2 separate regions of the Homo sapiens genome follow, and region 2 is linked to region 1. The links come from fine-mapping of genetic effects on gene expression. Tissue or cell type: whole blood. Region 1 holds a variant in brackets; the other region holds the start of a gene. All regions are shown on one strand. Distances are between the middles of the regions.

Region 1 (8,000 bases):
TTTTCTTTTCTATACTTAACATGTTTAATCTTCTAGCTTCTTGAACATACAAAATAGTTATAATATTCATTTTAATGTTTTTGTCCTCCAATTTTGTCACTAAATCAGCATCATTCTGGGCCAATTCCAATTCATTTCCTCTCCTTATAGGTTGGACTCTTCTGCTGCTTTTCATGCCTGATAATTTTTGATTGGATGCAGACACTGTGAATTTTACCTTATTGGGTACTAGATATATTTGTATTCCTAAAAATATTCTTGAGTTTTGTTTCAAGATACTGTTAAAATTATTAGGAAACATTCCTATCCCTTTGGATCTTGCTTTTAAGCTTTGTTAGGCAGAAACAAAGCAGTGTTTAATATAAGGTTCATTTTTTCCCCACTACTGAGGCAAGACCCTTTTTAATACTCTGATGCTTCCAATATTATGAGATTTTCCATTCGGACTGTTGAAAATAGATGCTATTCCTGCCCCTGTGCATACTTTGGAGTTCACTGGAGGGTCTGGACATGTTGTTTCTCTTCCTATGCAGCTCTTTCCTCTACGGTACTTTACTTTGCAAACACAAGCTATCTTGGCCTTCCCAGAGTCTCAGCTCCATTTTCTCAACTCGGCATCTGCCAAGCCCTACCTGGGGGTTCTCCTTGTGCTTCAGCTGGGAAACTTTCTCCAGTTTACCTCTGAGTTCAACCTGATAACTCCAATTCTATTTCCATACTTTAAGGTTCATCCTAGCATTCTCCTTTTTCATATTCACAGTTCTTTTTATTAAGCTTTATTGAGGTATAATTAACATGCAGAATTGCACATATTTAATGTACACATTTTGATGAGTTTGGACATATGCCTAAGAGTGTATACTCAAAATACTTAGCTGGGTTCAGTCTATTTTCCCCCTGACCACTTCAGTGTGGTTATATGATTTATTTGAAAGACAGCTTTTTCTTGTTTGCTTGTTTTCCATTTTAGGATTTTTTTTAACTCATACTTTTTTCCCTTTTAGAGTATATGAAACATCAACATGGTTCAAAAAGTCAAAAGTCAGAACTATATAGAGTTAATTTTGTATAGACTAAGATATGAATCTAATTTTATCTCTTTCTAAATGGCAATCTACCTGTTACAAAACCATTGTTTAAAAAGTTTGTGTTAGGTGGGCACAGTGGCTCATGTCTGTAATCCCAGCACTTTGGGAGGCCGAGGCGCGTGGATCACTTGAGGTCAGGAGTTCGAGAACAGCCTGCCCAACATGGTGAAACCCCATCTCTACTAAAAATACAAAAATTAGCCAAGTGTGGTGGCGCATGCCTGTAATCCCAGCTACTCGGGAGGCTGAGGCAGGAGAATTGCTTGAACCCGGGAGGCGGAGGTTGCAGTGAGCCGAGATTGTGCCACTGCCCTCCAGCCTGGGCGACAGAGTGAGGGAAAATAATAATTAAAAAAAAGCTTATCTTCATGTCAGCAATTTTACATGCCACCTTTTACCATATATGAAAGCTCCCTATTCACTTGGATCTCTTTCTTTTTATTCTGTCTGTCCATTTAGTTACCATCACATAAATTATGGTGGCTTTATTGTATGTTTTATTATCCATAGGGCTAGTCTCCATTGTAGCTTTTCTTTTCTCAGTGTTTCCCTGACTATTCTTTTTGTTTTGTTTTGTTTTGAGACGGAGTCTCGCCCAGTTGTCCAGGCTGGAGTGCAGTGGTGCGATCTTGGCTCACAGCAGCCTCTGCCTCCCGGGATCAAGCTGTTCTCCTGTCTCAGACTCCTGAGTAGCAGGGATTACAGGCACGTGCCATCACACCTGGCTAATTTTTGTATTTTTAGTGGAGACAGGGTTTCACCATGTTGCCCAAGCTGGTCTCGAACTCCCAACCTCCCAAAGTGCTGGGATTACAGGTGTGAGCCCAGGCTTGAGCCACCACGCCCATCCAAGACCCTGACTATTCTTACATGTTTGGTTTTTCATGTGAACCTTACTATCAACTTGTCTAGCTCCAGATAAAAACTTTTTGATATTTCTATTGAGATTGTGTTAAATTTATAAATTAATCTGTGATGTTGCATCATCCTATCCAAGAGCACTGGCTGTCTTTCCACTTGCTGTAGTCTACTTTTGTGTCTTTCGGGAGTGTTGTTTTTCTCATATAGGTTTTGTATATGTCATACTGAAATTTATTCTTAAGCATTTAACTTCTTTTTTGCTTTGTTAATGTTTTTTTTCTATTACATCCTCTGTTTTTTGCTTGTATATTTGAAGGCTACTATTTCTGTATGTAAATTTTTATCTTCCTGAATTCTTTTGTTCTTTGAGTTAATTATACCTTTATTTCTCTAGAGCTTTCCAGATAAGTATCACACTCCATCTGCAAATACTTTTACTTATTTCCCAATTCCTAAACCTCTAATTGATTCCTTAAATATAACTGCATTGCCTAATATCTTCTTTAGAACATTAAATAGTAGTGGAAATAGTAGATGATCTTGTTTTGTTTCTGATCCTTATGGAAATTCCTGTAGCATTTCTTCATTAAGAAAGATTCTGTATTCAGGAAAAATCATAAGTGCTATCAGAAATATTCTTTTTTTGTACTGTCTTTATCAGGTTTAGGTATATATATTACACTTGCTTCAGAAGAATTGTTTGGAGTTTTCTTTCACTGTCTAGGCTGTGACAGAAATGTAAGTAGCAGTGAGACAATCAGTTCTTTGACAATTCCTCTATGAAATCAACTAGGCCTTTTTGTGTTTCTCCTCTGGGAATTTATCTGTTTATGCTTTCTTTCTGTAATGGGGTCAATTTTGGTACAGTTTCCTAAGAAATTATTCATTTTTTATGGTTTGCAAATTTATTTACACAGAGATCTCTCTGCCAGATAGTCTGTCATATTTTAAATCTCTTGTATTTCAATAGTTATCTCCCCCTTGTCATTTCATATTTTGTATATTTGTGCTATTTCTTTTTTCCCTTGGTTATGTTAGCCAGTGGTGTGTCAATTTTGTTATTTTTCCTTGAAACACTGATTTTTATTTAGTTATTTTTTTTCTATTCCCAACCTTACTACTTTTTCTTTTATGTTTATTATTTCCTTCCTTATGTTTCATTTTGGTCATTTTGTTGTGCTTATCTTAGCATTTGGAGTTTGGAATTTAATGAGTATATTTTTTGTCTTTCATTATTATTGATATAAATGCTTAAGGCTGTGAATTTTCCACTGATCTTTGCTTTAAATATATCCCATAGATGCTAAGTAGTATTTTTATTTATTT[T/A]TTTTTTTAAAAGTTCTTTAATTTTAGCACTCACCCATTTTACTTCCTTTCAATTTGGTATCATGGTGTAGCTATTCTAAAATGATCCTGCTCCCTAATGCCCTCAGAATAAAGCCCCAAACCTGCAGCCCTTCATGGTTTGCTTATTTCTCCAGCCATGTTCTCTCTCTGTCATATGCTCACTCTGCCTACAGTTTCCTTTTTCCTTATACCACCTGGCCAATGTCTAGTCATTTTTGAAGATGAAGATCAAATTTAGGAATCCTTCTCTGATAATTCTCAACCCCCAATACCATCCCAGTTAAGCATTCCTCCTGGAAACTTAATAAAATCATATACTTCCTTTTTGTAATACTTATAACATTATATTTTAATATTTTGTTTTTCCACTAACATTGTAAGATCCTTGAAAGAAGGTATGCTTTTTTATTACTGTTCCCATGGTGTTCAGTAAATATTTGTTTAGTGTCCCTTCAGCTGTAGATTTCAAAACTACTATTTTAATGCATACATTCTGACCTGTGAGCTCTAGCATACTCTAGAGCTTCTTTGTCATAAACTTAGTTTGGTTGGTTGGTCTTAGCTTTTCAATTGAAGTGTAACATACAGAAAAGTACACAAATTACAAGTGTCCAGCTCAATCAATTTTCACAAAATGAAAACACCTATGCAACCACAACCCAGATCAGCTCCATGAATTTTTACAAGGTGAACGCCTGTGAAACTGTACTACATATCAAGAAATAGAACCTTACCAGCCCTCCAGAAGCCTCCTTTGTGACTCCTCTCAATTGTTATGCCCTTGTTTTTTTCCCAAAGGTAACCATTATCCTAATCTCTAACAACACAGATTAATTTTGTCTGTTTTTGAATTTTATATAAATGGGAAAATACGGTAAGTACAACTTTGTGTATGGCTTCTTTCACTCTGTTATGGTAGTTCTTTTTTATTGCTGTGTAATATTTCATTGTTGGAAATTACCACAATTTACTTATATGTTCTATTGTTAGGCATTTGGGTTGTTTCCAATTTGGGGCTCTTATGAATAAAGCTGCTATGAAAATAATCCTTACATAAGCCTCTTTTTGCCCATGTGAATGCATATCTTTTCAGTATGTACACAGAAGTGGAATTGCTGGGTTATCACTTTAGTAGAATAGTTTCCAAATTCACATCCTTGCCAACAGTGTATGAAGGTTTTCACAGCTTAACAGCTTCACTGACAATTAGTATTTTCTGACTTTTTCATTTTTTGCAGTTCTGGTGAGTGTGCAGTAGTATCTTATTGTGGTTTTAATTTGGATTTCCCCAGTGACTAATTAGGTTGAACACCTTTTCAAATGTTTATAGGCTTTTTGGATATCCCCTCATGTATAAGTCATATTCATTTTTCTTTAACTTTCTTAGTACTTCAAAAGAATTCCAGTATGTTCTGGATACAAGCTGTCAGCTATACCTATTCCAAGTATCTACTCTCTCACCCTGACCTGGTTTTCACTATCTTAATGGTATCATTTGATGAGCCTAAGTTGTTTATTTAATATAATAGTCCAAATTATCTTTTTATCTTTTCGATCTAGTGCTTTTTAGTGTCCTACACTATTTAAGACATCTTTCCCTATCTGGAAGAGATGCTTTATTATTTCACCATTCGTGCTTAAATCTACAATCTACTTAGTGTTAACTTTAGGATATGATGTGGGATGTGAGTTGACATTCCCTTTTTCCCACGTGTGTATCCAATTGACCTGGCACCATTTATTGCTGCCTTGCCACTTTGCCTTAAATCAGTCGTCCCTATATATATGATTATGTTTCTGGACTCTAGGCGAATTCTGTTTTGTCTATGTGTCTATCCTTGTGTCAGTAACACACTTAGTTGCTGTAGCTTTATAATAAGTCTTGATGATATGCGGTAACATTAGTTCTCCCCTTTGTTGTTATTCTTCAAGACTGTCTTGGCTATTCTTCGCCCTTTGTAGCCCCATATAAATTTTAAAATCGGTTTGTTGATTTCCACAAGAAAACTTGCTGAAACATGTCAGCTGAAATTTGACTGGGATAGAATTGAATCCATTCATCAATTTGATGTATCCCTCCATTTATTTAGATTTTAATTTCTCTATCTTTTGTATTTTTCTGTGAAACATCTGAAAAGATTGCACACATCTTTCATTTAAATTATTCTTGGGAATTTGGTGTTTTATGTTATTGTAATTGGTATCTTTTCATAATTTTCCAGTTGGTACCGGTTATTTAGATAGCAAATTGATATATGTATATTGGCTTTATATCCAGCAGCCTTATGGATATAAATGTACTTATTAATCCTAATGATTTATCTGCAGATTTTATTTCCTTGGGATTTTCTATGTAAACAGTCATGTCTTCCATAAACAAGGGCAATTTAATTTCACCCTTTCCAATCTTTACACCTTTTTATTTCTCTTTCATGCCTTATTATACTGTCTCAGTCTTCCAGTAAAATTTATGAATAAAATGTAAAAGAGAATGCTTTAAAATTTCCCAATTATCTCTGGTGTTTAATTTAGCTTTTCTGTAGTTAGCCTCTATCATATTAAGGAAGTTCCCTTGTATTTCTAGTATTCTAAGCCTCTTTTTTATGATTGAATGTTGAATTTTATCAAATGCTCCTTCTGCATTTATTAAGATAATCATATGATTATTTGCCTTAATGTGGTAAGTCGCATGAACTGATTTCTGAATCTTAACCCAGCTTTGCATTCCTTAGTCACTGTATATTATCTCTTTAGTGTATTCACTAGGCTAATCTTTTTAGGAATTATATATCTTTTTCATAAATAAGATTGATCCATAATTTTCTTTTCTTTAAACACCTTTGCTAGATTTTGATATCATGGTTTTGCTGGCTGCATAGTACAAAGTAGAAAATGTTCCCATATCTCGATTTTCTGAAATGGTTTGTGTAAGTTTGGGTTTTTTCTTTAAATGTTTGATAGAATGTAACAGATTAGCAATGTCAGTGTGGAGTTTTCTTTGTGTAAAGTTTTAAATTATAGGTTCAGTTTCTTTAAAATATGTAGGATTATTCTGATTTTCTGTATCGTTTTAGTTTTGGCAAGTTGTGCTTTTCTAGGAATTTATCCTAGAACTTTAGTTTACATTGTTCACAATATCTTCTTATTATTCTTTTAAAGTTTGTAGGATCCGAAGTGATTTCTCTTTTTTCATTCCTTACATTAGTAATTTTTGTGTTCTCTGTTTTTACCTTGATCAGTCTTGGTGGGGGTTTATTAATGATATCAGTCTTTTCAAAAGAGCCATAAATGTCCCTTTAAGCACTGCTTTGGGTACATCCATAATTTTTATTTACTATCCTTCAGTTCAAAGTATTTCCCTTGTGATATTATTACCCTTGTGATTTACTTTGATGTAGGTGTTATTTAGAAATATTTCATAAGATGAAATCAACACATGCTGCCCCTATATCTCACTGAACTCAACTATATACTCTGGAAAGAATGCCAAGCCTAGCTATTTGTGAACTCTGGAATGTAAATAACAGGCAGATTGGAGAAGGGCCCCAAAACTCAAAATACCACAGAAGTGGGGATATAAACAAGATCCAAAGTCTCATAACTTAATATCCAAAATAACCAGGACATAAACCAAAGTTATTTAACATATTAAGAACCACAGAAATCTCATCTTGTATGGGAGAAGATAATCAACAGATACAAAAGGCAAGATGACACTTATGTTGGAAATATCTGACAAGACTTTAAAAGCTGCCATTATGAAAATGCTCAAGCTATCAGTCACAAAAATGTTGCAACAAATATTTAAAAAGAAAAAGTATCATATAAGAAATAGAAGATAAAAAGAAGCAAATGTAAATTTTACAACTGAAAAATATAACAACCAAAAATTTTAAACTCTAGATTAAAAGTGAGAATGCAGTGGAAATGCCAGAGGAAAGAGTCAGTAAACTTGAAGATAGATTAATAGAATTATCCAAGCTGGATAACAGACAGAAAAGACTGGGAAAAAAGGGACAGAGTTTCAGAGAACTGTAGAAAAACCACAAAAGGTAGCAAAGGATAGACATATAAATCAGTGGAATAGAATTGTGAGTCCATAAGTCAACCTGTACATTTCTGGTCAATTGATCTTCAACAACTGTGCCATGATAATTCAACAGGGAAATAAGAGGCAATTCAACAAATGGTGCTGGGACAGCTGGATATCCACATGCAAAAAGAATAATGCTGGACCACTATCTTCACCCAATATACAAAAATTAAAATGGATCAAAGATCTAAATAGAAGAGCTAAAACAATACAACTTTAGAAGAAAACATAGGGGTACATCTTCATGACCTTCAATTTGGCACTAATTTCTTAAATATGACATCAAATGCACAAGGGAGAAAGGAAAAACAGATAAATTGGATTTGATAAAAATTAAAAACTTTTGTGCATCACAGCACATTATCAAGAAGGTGAAAATAACCTACAGAATCAGAAAAAATAGTGGCAAATTACAAAAAGCAGTCTCCCCTTATCTTTGGGGAATATGTTCCAAGAACCCCAGTGGAGGCCTGAAACCACAGATAGTACTGACCCCTATTACACCATGTTTTCTTATACACGCACACCTGTGATAAAGTTTAGTTTATAAATTAGGCACAGTATGAGATTAACAACAACAATAGTAAAATAGAACAATTATAACAATATAT
Region 2 (11,844 bases), 86 kb before region 1:
AAAAAAAAAGTATAGTGAGATACCACTGTGCAGTCATTAAGTACTGGCAACATCAAATGTTGTCCAGGATATATTGCAACTGGAACTCTCATGCATTGCTGGTGGGAGTATAGAATGGTACGTTCAAGAAATCTGTCTGGCAGTTTCTCTTAAACATGCACTTACCATATGATCCAGCAATTCCACTCCTAGATATTTAACTAAGATAAATGAAAATAGATGTTCACACAAAACATGTGGAGCACTGTTCATAGCAGGTTTATTTGTATTTGCTCCTAACTGGAAATAATCCAAAATTATGATATAATCCCATAATGGAGCAGTAATCAGCAATAAAAAGGATAGAAATACTTTATACAACAACCTGCATGAATTTCCAAATCATGATGCTGAAGAAAAAAAGCCATAGAAGAATACATACCGTATGATTCCACTGATGTAAAATTCTAGAACATGTGAAAACAAATCTGTAACTTCCAGATAGCAGTTTATTGGCTGAGGCCAGGTCAGTGGGAGAGACTCATTAAAAAGTTGCAGGAGGGTTGATGTAAATGCATGTTGATTAGGGTGGTGGTTATGCAAGTGTATGCATTTGTCAAAACTCATCAAACTGCATATTTAAAATTGATGAGCTTCATTGTATGTAAACTATACCTGTGGCAGGTAAAAATTTGGCCCACATCACCTTTGCTCCTTGGTGTCATGTCCAAAAATATATTATGTGGCAAATTAAACTTTGCAGATGGAATTAAGGGGCTGATTAGCTGACCTTGAGATGGGGAGAGTATTCTGAATTACCCAGGTCGGCCCAATGTAATCACATGAGTCCTTAAAAGTAAAAGAGAGAGGCAAAAAAGGCCAGAGATATGCACGGAAAATTGAAGTCAGAGCAATTCCAAGCATGAGAGAGTGTTGATGCACCATTGCTGGTAGAGGGCACTACATGGAAAGTGAGAGAAGGAACTGAATTTGCTAACATTCCAAATGAGCCTGTAAGCAGATTCTCCCCAAGAGCTTTCACTAAGGAGTGCAGCCCTATTAAAACCTTGGTGTTGGCCTTGTATGACCCTGCACAGAGTATCCAGCTGAGTCCACCTGGACTTCTAACTCACAGAAACTGTGAGACAGTAAATGGGTCTGTCATAAGCTGATACATTTGATGTAGTTTGTTACACAGCAATAGGAAATTAACAGGATATTCAATGTTGACCCAAATACTACAAACTAACTTGATAAACAAATTTAAAAAGCAATTAAAATCATACGTCTAGATTATCAAAGATGAAATCAAAGAAGATATTACAAACTATTCTGAAAAAAATGAAAAGAAAACCCTTCATGCTATACCATTTTACAATGTATACTTACATCAAAACATTATCTTGTACACCTTAAATATATACAACTTTTATTTGTCAATTATACCACAATAAAGCTGGGGTGGGGTGGGATAGAATTACCTGGGGACTAAATAGTTTGCTGAGGATGGGGCCTAGGAATGTAAATTTTAATAAGCTTCCCGAGTGATTCTTATGCACACTGAAGTTTGAGAACTAGTGCCTTCATGGACTTCAGCTTTGGGGTGAGCTTTAAGAAAGTCAGGGTCCAGTTAATGAATATGAGAGATACTGCTTTTTTTTATTTTTTTATTTTTTGAAATGGAGTCTCACTCTGTCACCTAGGCTGAGCACAATCTTAGCTCACTGCCACCTCCGCCTCCTAGGTTCAAGCAATTCTCCTGCCTCAGCCTCCTCAGTAGCTGGGATTACAGGTGAGCACCACCATGCCCAGCTAATTTTTTTTTTTTTTTTGGTAGACACGGAGTTTTGCCATGTTGGCTAGGCTGGTGTCAAACTCCTGACCTCAGGTGATCTGCCTGCCTCGGCCTCCCAAAGTGCTGGGATTACAGGCATGAACCACCATACCTGGCCGATTGCTTATTTATATCTCCAAGCTTCACTGATCAGAAAATACTTTTCCTGAAAAGTTATCCTACAGAAATCAGATCATGTTGAGAGGATAAGTCTCTGGAATGTTAATAAAGGTATATGGAGCTAGCATAGTTGAACTGTTCACTTTTTGCATAAGAAATCTCACTGTTCATGTTTTCCCATCAGACAAAATAAAACAGACTGACGAGTTTTATATATTAATGTGTGAACAGTGCATAGCTACATGCCAATAAAGCAGCACAGTTAATGAATCAATAGCTTCTTTTTCTGCTCAGTGAAAATAAAAATGCTTTATACCAACTAGAAAAAAAAAAAATCCAAAAGCCCATTCTTTGAAAAGAGCACCACCAGCAACAAAATAGACAAGTCATTGGCAAGCTTATTCAAGGAAAAAAAGATAAATAGCAAAGATAGAGGAATTTAGGAATAAGAAAGGGCACATAACTACAGATAATGTGGAGTAAAAGAATCATGAGTGAGTGCTACATGCAACACTGTGGCAACAAAATTGAAAAAATAAATAAAGTTACTTCCTAGAAAGGTATATAATTATTGGAAGTTGAAACTTGAATTGACTGATTATCATAGAAGAGCCTGGAGGGGTGATTAAAGATATTGCAAATGCCACTAGGACCAAATGGATTCATAAGTGAGTCTCACCTAACTTTTAGACAATGGATAATTCAAATGTTACTTAAGCTATTCTAAGCAATAGAAAAAGATGGAGTACTCATCAATTCATTTGATAAAGCCAACAAAACTTTGTTTATTATTATTAGTAGGTTGAGTAGTGAAAATCTACTAAGAATAGTCTAAAGAAATAGTACATAGAACCCACTAATGATCAAATTCCATGAATAGTAGATTTTACTCCAAGAATGTAAGGGTATTTAGTGTCAGGACATCTATGAACATAATTTGTTCATCAGCATATCAAAGAAGACAATTCAGATGATACCAGCTGCTGAAAACTTATTTATGATAAACATTTTGTGGCAAATGAGAATAGAATAAACACCATTTACAAAAACCAAAACAGCAAATGTTACTCTAAATAGCAAAATACAAAAATTATTTCAAGTAAAATCATAGAGTAGAAGGAATGTTCACTTTCATTGTTATTATTTAACATTTGCTCTTGTTTTCTAATAAATTCAATAAGATAAGAAAATGAAATAACTGGCTATAAATATTGGAAATGAGCTAAAATCTGTCTCATTTAACTTATGATATGATTCAATACTCACAGAGACTTTAGGGTAAAATTACTAGAATTAATAGGCAAATTTGGTAAGGTAGCTAGATTTAAGATGAATATACAATGGCTGGGTGCGGTGGCTCAAACCTGTAATCCTAGCTCTTTGGGAGGCTGAGGTGGGGGGAATGCTTGAGCTCAGGAGTTGAAAACCAGCCTGGGTAACATGGCAAAAACCCATCTCTAAAAAATATACAAAAATTTTCCGGGCATGGTGGCCTGCTCCTGTAGTCCCAGCTACTTGGGGGGCTGATATACAGGAGAATTGCTTGAATCCAGGAGGTTGAGGCTGCAGTAAGGTGAGATCACCCCACTGCACTCCAGCCTGGGTGACAAAATGAGACCCAGGCTCAAAAGAAAAAGCTGAAAATACACAAACCAATAGCTTATCTCTATTTGGTACTAAGCACTCATAAATGGAAATAGGAGAAAACTATCTTATTAACAATAGCATCACACTTATAAAATACACAGAGATAAATGTAATAAGAAAAATATTTAAATTTATTACATTAATAAAATTAAGGTCTGAGTTTAATGAAATTGCAGTTAGAATCACAACAGGGCTTGGATCTTTTTAATTTGAAAAATATCTTAACAGTTTTATGTGGAAGAATAAAGTGTCTAAGAATAGCTAAGAAAGGTACAAAAAGAATAGTGAGGATTGCTTTCACCCACCAGATATCAGAAGATATCATAGGCTCACTGTAATCAAATCACTATGGTACTGGCATAGCAAGATAATAGTAGATTAGTGAAACAGCCTAATGAATCCAGAAATATATGCTAATATATATGAGAACTTTATATGATGAATGTGTTGATTCAAATCAGTGGCAAAAGGTGCCATCACAATAGGCTATTGATCTGGATGGAAATAAAACTAGACAAATCCCTCTCTCATGCCATATGACAAAAGTAATTAGCAGATAATTGAAGCAATGCATATAAAAAGCGAAACAGTAAACATCTTGCAAGAAAATCTGGGAGATTACACGTACAATCTTGAGGTGTGGGAAACATTTTTAACCAACCTTGCCGACTCTGAAGATATGAAAGAAAAGATATCTCTGATTATAAAAATTAAAAACTGTTTTGGTAAAAGTTATAAGAAAGTCAACAGACAAACAATAGATCTTGGGGAAAACTGCAATATACATGACAAAGAGTTAATATTTGTAATAATAAAAGGGTTCTCATAATTTTTTTAAATGAAAGAGTCCAAAGAATAATGGGCAAATCATATGACTAATTAAATCCCCCAAATAAATCCAATAGCCAACAAGCATTTAAAAAGATGCTCAACTTATTAGAAATAAAAATAACACAATGAAAGTAATGATGCAATATCACTCTACACCTGTAAAATTGGCAAATTTTAAAAACAGGATAAAACTTATCGCTATGTGAATGCAGAGAGAAGGCCATTTTCATACTTCGATGGTAGAAATGTTTGAAAAGTTCTGACCTCTTTGGAAATTAAAACTTAGAAGGAAACATTCCCTTCGTTCCATTAATATTCCTCTTGCAAGTTTGTTCAACAGAAGTAAAAGCACCAGTATGTAATGATATAGGATATAGTAGCCAAAAACTGGAATAAAGTGAACATATTGACTAAATTGTGATACAGCCATACCATAGAATCTTATATAGCCAATAAAAATAATGAATTAAAGCTATACCAATTGACTTAGAGTTCTAGTACGTGTTAATGAGTGAGAAATGTGTGTATAATGTCCCAATTTTATAAAACAAATAATGTCCAAGAAAACCTTTGTGTGTGTGTATGTGTATGTGAATATATATTATCATACTGGGGTTACCTAGCTGAGGTGGGGGAGAAGGGGACTGATGTGGAAAGAGGGTGGGGAGCCAAACAGAAAGAACCAAAAAGAATATAAAGTATGTACAACATGACCACATTTAATGTTTACACAGCCACAATCTATGTATTATATTTAAATCTTTATAATACACATTTAAAGAAGACAAAAAAATAAAATAAATGATTTCAGCATTCAACTCAAGAAGCAAAAATCTAACAACAAAATGAACCAAAGGAAATTAGAAGGAAGGAATAAATCAATGAAAGTAGAAGCAGAAACTGATGCAACAGAAAGAAAAAAGAGATTGATAAATCAAACCAAAAGAAAATTCTTGACAAGACCAATAAAATCAAGAAAACTCCTGGAAATATTATTTTTAAAAGAGAGGAAGAGAACATATACAACATAAGGAATGAAAAAGAAAATATAACTACAGACACAGAACAGTTTAACAAAATCACAGGAGACTCTTACATAACTTGATACCAATACATTATCAAATCTAGGGACAGTAGATTGCTTTCTATGAAAGTATAGACCAAAATATACCAATATTTACTGAAGAAGAGGTAGAAAAATCTGAATCAACTGATGACCATAGACAATATTGATAAAGTTATTTAATACTCTGCCTAAATGCACCAGAACCCCCAAAACACGAAAAGCTTCTGAACTCAAGGCTCATATTATCCTTACACCCAAAGTAGGAAAAGATATTATAAAAACACACATTGCATGTACACACAAGAGAACCAGACATGAAACTTGTGTGTGATATTGATTGGATTTCATTGCCTTGATTCTCTCTATGGAAGCTTGGGCAGGCAGAGGGAAGTTTTGTCTTTGTCCCTTCACCCTCCCTCTACTCCAGTCTCTAGATTCTGGAGGAGCAGCATATGACGAAGAGAAGCAATGGACAAAACAGAACAAAATATCAACAAATAGGTCAGACCTATGAAAAGAATTGGCAGTTAGCATTTCTGCTAATAACACAGATGTGTGCACACCTTACCCAGAAATGTTTCTTTGGGGCCCAGGTAGCATCACAACCATCCTAACCCGATGTCTGCACCTTCCTCCAAGCAGACTTACATCCCCACAATCCTGGCCCCGATCAGACCCTACAGGACATGCCTTTACCTTGCGTCCACAGGCAGCTCACCGAGATCACTTTGCATATAGTCCCATGACAGTTCCACTGCACCCAGGTAGTATCTTCTGGTGGCACTAAAGCAGAATCGCAAAAGGCACAGAAAGAAGCAGGTGGAGAGCTCTATTTGCATGACTTATTGCTACAAATGTTCAACTGGAGAAGCAAAAGGTTAATTCTTCTCTAAAATATCTTTAGCTCCCAGGAGGGGAAAAAAGTAAAATTTCTGATTTAATGAAAAGTCCCAATTTCTTTGCAGAGCATTTTAAGGAACTTTACCCACTGGATGTGCTCAGCACTAAGCAGTAACCGATAGGATTGCTTCCTTTTTATCAGTGGGAAGCAGCCACAGGAAGAACTGAAGTAGCAAAAGGGAGGCTGCTAAACTTAACCCATTCACTTCTGAGAGCAGTAGGGGCATAAGTCTGCTTTAATCAGAACCTTTAAGGAAAGGAGGAGAGGGATGGAGAAGTCAAAGTGAACAGGAGCTTTAATTTGTGCTCCTATTCCTAGCCTACTCCAACCCTCTTCCTGAGTGGCAGCAGCAAGAGAAGTTCTGGATGTTGTCGAAGATTCTAGAATTCACTTGCACTAGCAAGAGTAACCAGCAACCTGTTAGTCTCTCTGCTTTTGCCCTTGCCCCTCACACTGCTGCCAGTATGAGGAATTTATAGTTTTTAAAACTGTAGTTTTACATATAACATGAGGTTAGGCAACTATTGTTTTAAAAACTATAATTTATAGTTATAATTTAAAACTATAAAGCGAGTCCTGTCACTCCTCTTCTCAGAATCCTCCAATGGCTTCTGACCTCCATCAGGGTAAAACCCTACATCTTTACCATGGCCTAGGTCCTAGAGCATCCCACATGGTCTGCATGCCCTTTCTCCTGACCTCTGTAGTCTCATCTCACTCTGGTTATACTGGTCTCCTTACTCTTCCCTAAAATATCAAGCACACTCATGCCCCTGGACCTCAACACTTGCTATTTCTTTTACCCAAAACACCTTTCCCCCAGATTTCCACGTAGTTCCACTCCCACAACTCCTTCACATTTCAGCTCCAATCTTCCCTGTTGAATGAGGTTTAAATATGGAACACCACATTTATGTTGTAAGCTCTTTACCCCCACCTGCATCACTGATATCCCTCTTGGCTTCATTTTTCTCAATAGCACTCATAACCACCTGGCATTTATTCATTTATTTATTTTGTTTTGTTTTTAACCTAACACTTTTCCAGGCTGTTTACATTTGGCCCAGGTATAGGATATATCTCTTTACATCAGAATGTAGCCATGGTGAGCTCAAACACCCTACTCAGGTTAATGTTTATTAGGGAGAGTGAGGGCCCCTGCAGGGGCCTCAAAGTGTAAGAGATTATGAGAAGAAACTTGATCAGGGTTGCTATAAAAATGTTATCATTGAGCTCAGTTCTGCACAAACAAGAATGTGTTAGGGAGCAATTGGTATATTGTCGACTGGTTTGGAAACAGGCAGCAAGAAGCCCCTTTGATAAACACTCCTCTCTGACAGGTACAAGGATGCAGAGATGACAGCTGACACTATATGCCAGGAACTGTTCTAGGTGCTTTTAAATACAGGTACTATTCTTACCTTCATTTTATGGGTGATGAAACTGAAGCACGGAGAGGTTAGGCAACTTCTCCATGGCCACACAGCTTGTGAGTGGTAGCATTCAAACCCATGTACTCTGGCTCCAGAAGTCATGCTCCTAACCACTATGCTATACTTCTATGCCTCAGAAATGAAGAAATCCCAGTTCCCAACCCCCTGGGAATGACAGTCCAATGGAGGAGACAGAAAAGTAGACAGTTACAGTACAGGGTGATAAATTCACTGCCAGGTGCTACACATAGGCTATCTGATTTAATCCTCATGACAACACCGCAAAGTGGATACAGATAAAGTAACTGAGGTACAGAGAGGTTAAATGGCTTGCCTACAGCCACATAACTACCCATTTGTCCTAGACAGATATTGTCCTAGGCACTGGGTACACATTGATGAAAAATATAAGCAACTGAAAGAGGGATGATAAGCAATAATTACAATACATGAGTACATTATACAGTATGTTAGAAGGTAAAATAAGTGCTGTGCAAAAAAGAGAAGTGGGGTAAGGGGGAGTAAGGGTGGACCAGGTTGCAATTTTAAAGGAGGTTAGTCATGGAAAGTTTCACTAAGGTTGCATTTCAGCAAAGGGACATTGACTTCTACACTGAGGGCAATGGGGAGACACGGCCGGGTTGTGAGTAGAGGAGGGTGGTGATCAGAATTATCTTTTAGGCTGATCTTTCTGATCACTGTAGATAAAACAAACTCTAGCAGGATAAGGGTAGAAGGAGGGTGGCCTGTTAACCGGGGGTGAGAAATGGTGGCGGCTTGGGCTATGATGGTACCACTGGAGAGGGTGAAAAATGGCTGGATTCATTGTGAGGGTAACGTTTGTGGGAACTGCTGATGAATTTTGGATCTGTGGGCTTTGAGAAGGAAAAATTTGGAACACCAAGTTTTTTGGAATAAAGTTGACTAACTGGGATGGGGATGACTGCATGAGTAGCTTAGGGGCGGGGCACACTGTTAAAGGGCTCCTCAGGCACTGCAGGCATAGAAGCTCCTTTCTTTCCCAGTGCTTCTCTTATAGCGATTACAATGTTTTAAAAATGTGTCTTCCAGACAAATACAGTACAATCCAACATGTTTGAGGTTCTACAGTTAACAGATTGTATAATTAATAATCTGGGTGGGAATGTTAATCAGGAATGAAATACAATTTAAAAATTAACAAAGTAATGAGTCAGAGGCTATATTGATAGAAGCACTTTTTAAGGAATAGCATTCCCTGGCCCAAGGGCTTAGTTGATTGAAAATTTTATCTATTATTGCTAAATTTTAAATCAAAATATGGCCGGGCACGGTGGCTCACACCTGTAATCCCAGCACTTTGGGAGGCTGAGGCGGGCAGATCACGAGGTCAGGAGATCTAGACCATCCTAGCTAACAAGATGAAACTCCTCCTCTACTAAAAATACAAAAAATTAGCCGGGCATGGTGGCACGTGCCTGTAGTCCCAGCTACTTGGGAGGCTGAGGCAGGAGAATCGCTTGAACCCGGGAGGTGGAGCTTGCAGTGAGCCGAGATCGCGCCACTGCACTCCAGCCTGGGCAACAAGAGCGAGACTCTGTCTCAAAAATAAAATAAATAAATAAATAAATAAATAATCAAAATAGACCCCATTACCAAATTTTCATGTTTTCAAGGATTCTCTAAAACCTACAATATTATCAATTACATATTCACAAATAATTACTGAATACAATATGGTATGTGGTAAAGTACAAAGGAGTACTGTGGCCATTTGTGATAAATAGAAATCAAATTGGAAATCTTCATAGATAACGTATTTTTTCTTTTTTTTTTGGAGACGCAGTCTCACTCTGTCGCCCAGGCTGGAGTGCAGTGTCGCGATCTCGGCTCACTGCAAGCTCCGCCTCCCGGGTTCACGCCATTCTCCTGCCTCAGCCTCCCGAGTAGCTGGGACTACAGGCGGCCGCCACCATGCCCGGCTAATTTTTTGTATTTTTAGTAGAGACGGGGTTTCACCATGTTAGCCAGGATGGCCTCGATCTCCTGACCGCGTGATCCGCCCGCCTCGGCCTCCGAAACTGCTGAAATTACAGGCGTGAGCCACCGCGCCCGGCCAGATAAGGTATATTTTTATTCCTTTTATTTTTACTCAACTCCTATGGTGCCACAAAATCCTATATTAAGCAGTATAATTGAAAAGAAAAAGAAAACAATAGCACAATGATTATAAAGAAAATAGCCTGAGTTAACTTCATTTGTGTCACTCCTAAAGCAGTGGATCAGATGTCAATGTTTATTATCATTCACTAATTACATTTATGAATAATTTTTAAAAGTAAAGGAAAAGACTGGCTGTTTTAACTAACATAATAGAAACTGTTGCTGGATTTTCTGTTGAAGGTATATTTTGAAGTGAGTTTTATTAAGTATAACTCGCATGTAAAATTCAAAAGAAAAATTAAATACATAAATAAAATGTGTCTTCCTCCACTAAAAGAGTAGGACACATCGCAGAAGCCGATAAATATTTGTTCAATGTTTACATGAACAAACACGGTCACTCAGCCGTCTTTATTTTCAGTGAGTCATAGGTAAAATATTCTTCACCAGGCGAGGATTGAGTCGCAGTCGCGTCAGGAACTCGCCTCCAGGTACTGAGCGAGCGAGCCCCGACGGCCGCGGTGGGTGGAGGGGGGAAAGTGGGGGAGAGTGGGGCGGGAGTAGAGGGAGAGCGAGGGAGGGAGCCTCACCCCCGGGACGCTTTCTGCGCACGCGCATCTCGGTGCATCTGTTGGGCGGGACCGCGGGGCCTGTGACACCGCACGCTGAGCTCTGTGATGTAGCCGCTTGCGGAGACTGCAAGCAGCCGCGGCGCGCCCGGCCCTCCCTCTTCCGCTGCCGCCGTGGGAATGGAAACATCTGCCCCACGTGCCGGAAGCCAAGTGGTGGCGACAACTGCGCGCCACTCCGCGGCCTACCGCGCAGATCCTCTACGTGTGTCCTCGCGAGACAAGCTCACCGAAATGGCCGCGTCCAGTCAAGGTAAGGGCGGGCGCGCGCGCGGCCGGCGCCGCGGGGAGCCGCCTTCCTGGGCTCCGGAAGGGGAAGGGCTCCGCGCCCGCCAGTCGCGACCGAGCTCCCCGGGGAGTCCAAGCGGCGCGGGGACGGGGAGGGCGCTCGGGGATCGCCCCTGGCTCAGCCGCTCCCAGGGTCCGGCCAAGGTCACGCGCGTGTCTGGGGCCTAACCACCCTGGGGTGTCGTCTCCAGTGGAGCTCACCCAGCCTTCCGGCGCCGCCCCCGGCGCAGAAGCCCGAAGACATTCTGTCCCCGTTCTCGGAAGCGGTCTGGCTTCTTTGTCCCTTTGGACGTTCATCTCAAATGCCTCGTGGCGTCATTCTGTGTACAAGGCACCTCCCCAACTGCTTTATTGTTGGTTTTGAAAAACTAGCACATATGGGATGGTACTTAGGAATAGCCTTCTGTTTAGTCGGCATAGTCAAAGATTCCGTGTAATTCGCAGTGGAGCACGTCTTTAAGTTATGCGTCTTACCCTATTTTGAATGTTTAGGTTGTATTTAATTTAGTACTGACTCACGGGATCCCATTGCTAAACAGAGCCATCATTGAAAACTCAATCATATAAACGTAAAATTACGTAAATTATGTTAAAAACAAAGGCAGTGAAAATACTAAAAACTCATCACTTTTATTATTTACCATGTTTTATTGTTACTTTACTTTTGAGGTTATTTATACATCTATTGTATCTTTGTGGAGGAGATACTATACTATGGTGCTCTACTGTGCGTCTCTTCCCATCTCTGGGTTCAGTAGTTTCACAATTCAGTAATGTCATGCTCACGATGAATGAATACGCAATGGAAATTGGCTACACTACAAATCAGCCCTTGCCTAAAGCCGACTGTTAAGCATTTCACCAGCACGCCGCTAAATTTTAGATGACTCTGGGAAGGTGGAATGTGCAATGTGATAATTATGTATTTTCCTGCAGAGCAGACTGCTCTTATAGACTTTTATAAGAGCAGACTG

The links. PIP is the estimated chance that this variant, and not a neighbour inherited with it, causes the effect.
Region 2: it holds the start of F8, and the variant in region 1 is fine-mapped to the expression of F8 in whole blood (TOPMed, PIP above 0.99).

Annotation. Positions count from the first base shown.
Region 1 is chrX:155,104,049-155,112,048 of GRCh38, forward strand. The region is part of intron 7 of BRCC3 (BRCA1/BRCA2-containing complex subunit 3); the gene reads left to right. Among named protein-coding and RNA genes, the nearest start is that of BRCC3, 37 kb to the left of the region's middle. The variant T/A (reference allele first, on the strand shown) is at 3,276.
Region 2 is chrX:155,016,237-155,028,080 of GRCh38, forward strand. It overlaps F8 (coagulation factor VIII), which reads right to left and starts at 6,487. Exons shown (of 26, transcript NM_000132.4): 1 at 6,174-6,487. The coding sequence starts at 6,316. FUNDC2 (FUN14 domain containing 2) reads left to right here and starts at 10,608. Exons shown (of 5, transcript NM_023934.4): 1 at 10,608-10,835. The coding sequence starts at 10,703. RefSeq lists silencers at 10,429-10,518, 10,789-11,108 and an enhancer at 11,286-11,844.